Homo sapiens: one gene and its partner. The protein of the gene in region 2 purifies or fractionates together with the protein of the main gene of each other region. This does not show direct contact. Each region holds a gene or a part of one and is shown on either strand. Other genes may lie near its edges.

Evidence for each region. The genes of interacting proteins can lie anywhere in the genome.
Region 1: the proteins of MSRA (region 2) and TRIM26 purify together in Homo sapiens (affinity purification with mass spectrometry; one large-scale study listed by BioGRID and IntAct). This does not show direct contact.

The regions. Positions count from the first base shown.
Region 1 is NC_000006.12:30,183,846-30,187,019, forward strand, and holds the end of TRIM26 (tripartite motif-containing protein 26), read right to left. Parts: intron 2,714-3,174; coding exon 2,031-2,713; 3' UTR 610-2,030; downstream 1-609.
Region 2 is NC_000008.11:10,421,292-10,424,791, forward strand, and holds part of MSRA (mitochondrial peptide methionine sulfoxide reductase isoform a precursor), read left to right. Parts: intron 1-3,500. UniProt on the Homo sapiens protein: Has an important function as a repair enzyme for proteins that have been inactivated by oxidation. Catalyzes the reversible oxidation-reduction of methionine sulfoxide in proteins to methionine.

The sequences.
Region 1 (3,174 bases), on a different chromosome or scaffold from region 2:
GTAGTTCCAGCTACTCGGGAGGCTGAGGCAGGAGAATGGCGTGAACCCGGGAGGCAGAGCTTGCAGTGAGCCGAGATGGCGCCACTGCACTCCAAACTGGGAGACAGAGTGAGACTCCATCTCAAAAAAAAAAAAAAAAAAAAAAAAAAAAAAAAAAAAAAAAAAAAAAATCAGAAAGGACAAGAAAAACAGTTGACTGTGTTAGGATGCAAGGCTGAATCTCTGCACATTCTATTTCCTCTGAGGCAGTGCTTATTTTCCAAGGAAGAATTTTTGGGTGTGCTATACTGGAGGTCTCCCTTCTCAGGGAGAGTCATCACTTGCTCCAAAACGCTGGACCTCAGCTCAAGGGCACCACTGCAGGAGGAATAAAAAGGTGGAGCCACGCAACAACTCGTCTGTGTTCCGCAGTAGGCTCTTTTTGAGGGACTTCCAGAAATGACAGCATGTGTGCAGAGAACAGAAAGCAAAGTTACACTGTTACAGAAGGCACAGAAGGAAAACCTTCGGCTACTGCTATCAGTGGAATTTCTCTGTAGCCAGACTGAGGTCTGGTGGCATTTGAGATATAATATAGATATAGACCTACAAATACAGATCTCCAGGCTGTTCATTCAACAAGTCTTTATTGAGCACCTACTCTGTGCCCAGCACTGCACTAGGTGCCATGAGAATACAAGAGTAGTATAAGATGTTATCCGCCCTCCAGGAGCTTACAAAACTAGAGGCAGAAATAAGATGTACATGTGACTCAGGCAGCATGTGACACACACAAAGTGGGCAGCTCTGAGACAATGGTGGTCAAGTGACCACTGAGGCCCAGAGCCGTTGGAACAGTCTCTTAGAACAGGGTGGAGGACTTAAAACTTGGATGAACAGGGGCTGGCAGAGCACTTGGAATGGGTAAGGACAAGACTGGGAGATCAATTTGGCTGGAGCAGGGGAGCTTGTGTTAAACTGTGATGATGAGGGGCACCTGGACAGAGGTTGGGTCCGTGGGCAATGAGAAGACATGTTACTCCCTCTCTTGACATGAAGACCTGGTGGGCTTGTGGCCTCCTGCTGCCTTCCTTTCCCTGTCTTCCCATCTCCACTCTCTCCTAGGAAAGTGGAACCTGGATGCTGGTAGGGCCAGAGACAGAGGCTTAACACCCTGCTGGGGAACCCGGTCAGAACTCCCGAGGCAGGAGAGGTTCTGCTCCACTGGATGTTTGTCTTGGTGTTTTTGGATGTGCTGATCAAGAGCAAGATGTTCTGGATTCTTAAAACTCCCCTCACAAGGACCAATCTAGAGATAATTTATTGATCAGTGATCACAGCTTGTACCCCAAAGCCGTGTATGTCTGGATCCTTCCCTAAGACCACAGATAGCTCCAGGGAGTCCCACCTCCTTGGCTATGGAAATATGCTCAGCCCTGGTTTCAGAGAAGCCTGGACTCCACTCTGGACCCCATGAGATGATATGCGCTGGTACTCCAGGCTTTAAATGGCCTGGGAAGCCTCAGTGGATTTTGTTTATTTTCAGCATTGCCATGTATGCTTAACTCTGAGTTGGGGTGGGGTAGGTCTGTTTAAAATGCCAGGGAAGGTGGGCAGCAGAGTGGATTTGTGCAAGAAGGAACCTGGGGGGTTTAAGGACAGCAAAATGATCTTAGGCGTAATTGACTGGTTTTTCTGAGGTCTTGCCACACTGGGCAAGAAAATGCTGCATCGGGCCCTTATTCCAGAGAGTGCAGAGCTGGGGCCAAGGTCGTGGTCAAAAAGGAAAGGAGCCCTCATGGACTCCAGGGTCAGAAGTTCCCTCGGGAAACCAGCAGGAGGTGGGAAAAGAGCCCCATTAGGGCAGTAGATGGAGCAACAGCACTGAGTGAGATTTCAGGGGGCCACAGCAATGGGGAGGTGGCTACCAGTGGATATGGGGTCCCCTGCTCCAGGTGCTTAGGCCAGGCATCCCGTCCCCCCATTGAGAGTCCTGGAATTCCAAAGAAGTGAAGCATCTGAGGGTTGGGGCTGGGGGCAGATGTCAGGGCTCAGGGTCTTAGCAGGAGGCGTGTTCCTGGCCACTTGAGCCACAGGAAGGGGACCAGGCGCCGGGTGAAGGTGGCAGTGAAGGTGTAGATGAGTTCCTGTGACTCTGCGTTGGTGAAAGTCACGGTGCCCCCTTCATAATCCAGGGCGATGCCCACTCTCCGGGGCCGCAGTGCTGGGAAAAGCTCAGCCTCGGGGCTGGTGTTGGCCCAGATGCCGGAGGAGGAGAGGCGCAGCGCCCACACGCCATCCTCTGGCCGCAGGGAGAGGTCTCCCTTCCTCTTCACAGAGTCTCTAGCCACCCCCACCATGCAGCTTTCCAGAACTTCCTCCTCTTCCTCCTCCTCTTCTTCCTCTTCATCGCCCAACGATTCCTCATCTTCGTCCGTTTCCCAGTCGTCATATCCATCCCCATAGCCGGCCTCCTCTTCCTCCTCCTCCTCTTCTCCCTCTTCCTCCTCATCCCCCTCTTCTTCATCCTCAGACCAGCCCTCCCTCTCCACTTCCACTTCCCAGTAGACCTTGCCCCAGGTGAAGCCCTTGCTGCCTAGCACCCCAGGCTCACAGTCAAACTGCTGGGGGTGCAGGTAGGCACTCTTGTACAGGCTGGTGTAGGTCACGCACTTCCAGTCCTCTGACAGCTGCAGGTACCCACTGGCCGACTGTGGGTCCAGGGTGACGCTCACTGTGGGGACAAGGGAAAAAAAAAAAAACAGCATCACTGTTTTGTTTTGTTTTTTAAGTCAGAGGGAATAAAATTTATTTTGGCAGATAGCGTTAAACAAAATTAAAGTTGCATACATTAGTAATATAACTCAACATCCTTAATTTGGTATAAGTGTGACACATTTTCTGGCTTTGTATTCTGCTAAATCACCATAACTAAACTGCTTTATAAACATGATATACTGAAATTTAACTTGACTGTTTTCGCTTACGCTCTGATTCCAAACAAAACTTTTCATAAGCTTCCTCTATCTCTGGATCTCTGGGTCCAACTCATCATTAATATCATCCAAGTGTGGATCACCAGTCCCTGAAAAATCTGTTCCATTTTCTTCATAATCCAGAAAAAAAGTCCTCTTTTTCAAGTAACTCTTGATATGCTTCTTGGTAATCCGGATCAGCTGCAGTGAAAGGAACACT
Region 2 (3,500 bases):
AAACAGGAATAAGAAGCCTACATTTTAGTCAATGGAAGGTTCACGTGAATAGAGGGTGGAAGCCCTTTGGAAACACTGTTGTTCTGGACAAACACAGGGTCCTGGTCTCCACTCTGGGCTCTGGGTCTCAATGCCTTTCTAACCTTGCCCACTGGTGCCCACTGCCACCTGTGCTGCCAGGAGCCATCCTGCATTTCCCAGGGTGGTATGAGAGCGTGTCACCTCCATGTAATAGGCTGAGACACTCGGGCACTTGGAGAATCTCGGTGATCCTAATCGTAAGCTTGTTAGCAGGCTGCAGTCAGCAGAATGATCACATGTTCATTACATTTATTACCAGAAAGGCTCTTTACTGGCCGCCCTAGAAGGACGGATGGGACCTGCTGTGCCCGGCTGGCACGCCTTCCATAAGGAGTGACCCGGCTGCTTTTCGTGCATCTGTGGTGTTCCTATGAGTCGCTGGAGCTGGAGACCGAGCTGAGGTGGATGAGGCCTAGGGGGCTGGGGGCTCCATCACAACTTACACATGCCTACCCGCCTTCCTGCCCCAGAGATCTGCTGCTCAGCCATAGAAATGGGGATTCCATGGGGGAATGTGGAAATGGGGGCTACTTAAGGAGGGCAGGATAGGCAGGCTAGCTTTCACCCCTGGGTGGGGATTTTTGGGAAATGGAGCCAGTACTCTGCAGTAGTTAAAACACGCCAGGCAGGCTGTGTCGTGGCTCACACCTGTAATCCCAGCACTTTGGGAGGCCAAGATGCGAGGATCGTTTGAGGCCAGGAATTTGAGACCAGCGTGGACAACATATAGGGAGACACTGTCTCTATAAAAAAATTAAAATTAGCCAGGTATGGTGGTGTACGCACTTGTAGGCCCTGCTTTTCTGGAGGGGCTGAGGTACAAGGATCGCTTGAGCCCAGAAGGTAGGGCCTGCCATCAACCATGGTTGCACCAGTGTACTCCAGCCTGGGTGGCAGAGCAAGACCCTGTCTCAGCAACAGAAAAGCCAGGCAGGGCATGGTGCACTTTCTGTGCCCTCTCTGCATTCCTCGTCCTAGCACAGTGAACTAGGTAAGGGGCCCATTTCACAGGCAGAAAAGCTGAGTCCAAGGAGAAAATGACAACAGAAGGAAGGCACAGGAGGCTTCCTGGGGTCATTGAGGAAGAGTCTGTGAGAAAAACACAAATGACCAATTCTGTTAGGTGACCTTCCAGAAATTCCCTGGGCCAGGTGTCGCCCCACATGTGTTACTGTATGCAGTCCTGCTGACTTCTTTCTAAAAGGTCAGCAAGACACACACACAAAAAAATGCCACAAGCAAAAGTCAAGATACTTGGAGTCAGTAAGAGAGAGAAAAGTTGCCGGGAGCTAGGCTCAGGTCATTCCTCCCCTGAAGTGGAACGTGGTAGGGGCATGTGAGACTGGCTGTCAGTACAGCCCTGGGGGTACCTGGCCCCACAGGCTGCAGTAGGGAGCTGGGCCGGGGCTACCCTATGCAGAGGCAGGCCCTGGGGTTGAGCAGCAAGAGCACCTCTTTCCAGGCTTTTGAACCAATCTAGGCAGTTACTTCAACCAGGCAAGTCCGTCATGACCTGAACTCATTCTCCATCCCCAAAAGTGGCCCCATAGGGCCTGGAGGATGAGCACAGTCCCCTGAGGGCACCTGGGTCTTGAGGCCGGAGCGCCACTGCCCTGCCTCCCTCTGTCCAGCACAGTGTTTCTGGTGACATCCCACTGTCACGGGTGCAGCCTCCTTATTGGAAGGCGCCTAAAGATTCAGTAGGTGATGTGGGCAGTTGTCTCGGCAGTCACGAATGGTCAGCCGTTTTTATGGGTCCTCCCCATGGACGACGGGAGAGGGGAGAGGCCACCAGGCTGCGCATTACCTGGGTCCCCACCCTCTTCCTCCTCTCCAGCTCTCCTGACAGTTCTCTCCTGCCTGCTCCTGAGGGCCAATGAGAGGCAGTAAAACCGAGATCCGGATCTAAGGCGTTCCATCTGCTCCAATTCGTTAAGGAAAAGTAGATGACCACAAGCATTGGTGTGTCAGCCATGATCAGTAACACGCTACCTAGGAACCCCTGCCCCATCACTGACTGGGACACCTGGTGTGTGTTGATAGTGCAGGAAGGGGGCTCAGGAGACTGGCATGCACCCATGCCGGCACCTGCATAGCTTGGCCCCGGTGCCAGGTTGACCAGTGGACTTGGGGTGGGGCGGGGAGGGGGGGTGGCAGCAGAGGAACCATCTGTAACCCAGAGGTGACAGTCTTCGTCCCCTATCTCCCCCTGCTCCTGCACCACCCCACTCTCCCTGCAGAAGAGCAAATGGGCTTTTTCAGGAGCCGTGGATGACAGAGAGGCATTCTTCTGTGCTCCCTGCAAGGACACAGCACCACAGGGCCACCATCTAAAGACTGAACCTGCCCATGGAACTGGCCAGGACTCTGTGACACGGAAAGTGGCTGCCTGAGTCCGTCGTCCCCTTCTCCCTCCCACCATTCCTTCCCAGGCCCTAGAGGAGGTGCTGGGTCTTGAGGTAGCAACAGGGACCCAGGTGGAATCCAGAAGCAGAGAGAATCTCCAGGAGATCCCAAGAATCCATAGTTCATTTTCTCATTCATTCATTCATTCATTCATTAATTGCACACAGTGCACAAAGCCCCGAGATGAGGGAGAGACACAGACAGTCCTGGGTAGTGGAAGTGGCTTGGAGAACAGAAGGGTTTTTGTAATGCAGCGTCATCAGCGCTGTCGGGCATTGCGATGCCACGCGAACATAGTATGTGGAGCAGCTTCTGCCTTCAAGAAGCGGGCAGGTTTCATAGAGGTGGGGACATTTGGTCTGGGTCCTCAGAGATGGATAGGAGTTCCTGCGATGGAAAAGAGGAAAGGACATTCCTTGGAGATCGTGTGCAAGGGAATGGAACATTCGGGAAACAGGTAAAAATGAACAACACCAAAGAAAATAGTGCGCAGAGGGGAAGGAAAGGCTGAAAAGGTAGAAGATGGTGAGGGAGACGATGCTGAGGGGTGAATCAGGGAGAAGGGCCTGGGGTGGAGCGGGAATGGGGAGAAGGCCCGGGGTGGAGTGGGATGGAGAGAAGGACCCGGAATGGAATAGGATCGGGGAGAAGGGCCTGGGGTGGAGCAGGAATGGGGAGAAGGCCCGGGGTGGAGTGGGACGGGAAGAAGGACTCGGGATGGAATAGGATCGGGGAGAAGGGCCTGGGGTGGAGTGGGATGGGGAGAAGGACTCGGGATAGAGTGGGATTCGGGAGAAGGGCCTGGGGTGGAGAGGGACAGGGAGAAGGGGCCAGGGTGGAGTGGGATCAGGGAGAAGGGTCTGCGGCGGAGCTAAACTGGACGGGGAGAAGGGCCCGGGGTGGGTTGGATCGGAGAGAAAGGCCTGGGGTGTTCTGATTCGGGGCCAGGGAGAGGCCCCCTCCTGGGTTAGGGGAGGTGCTGGGGCAGGCCCAGATCTCCCAGGCTCCCTGGT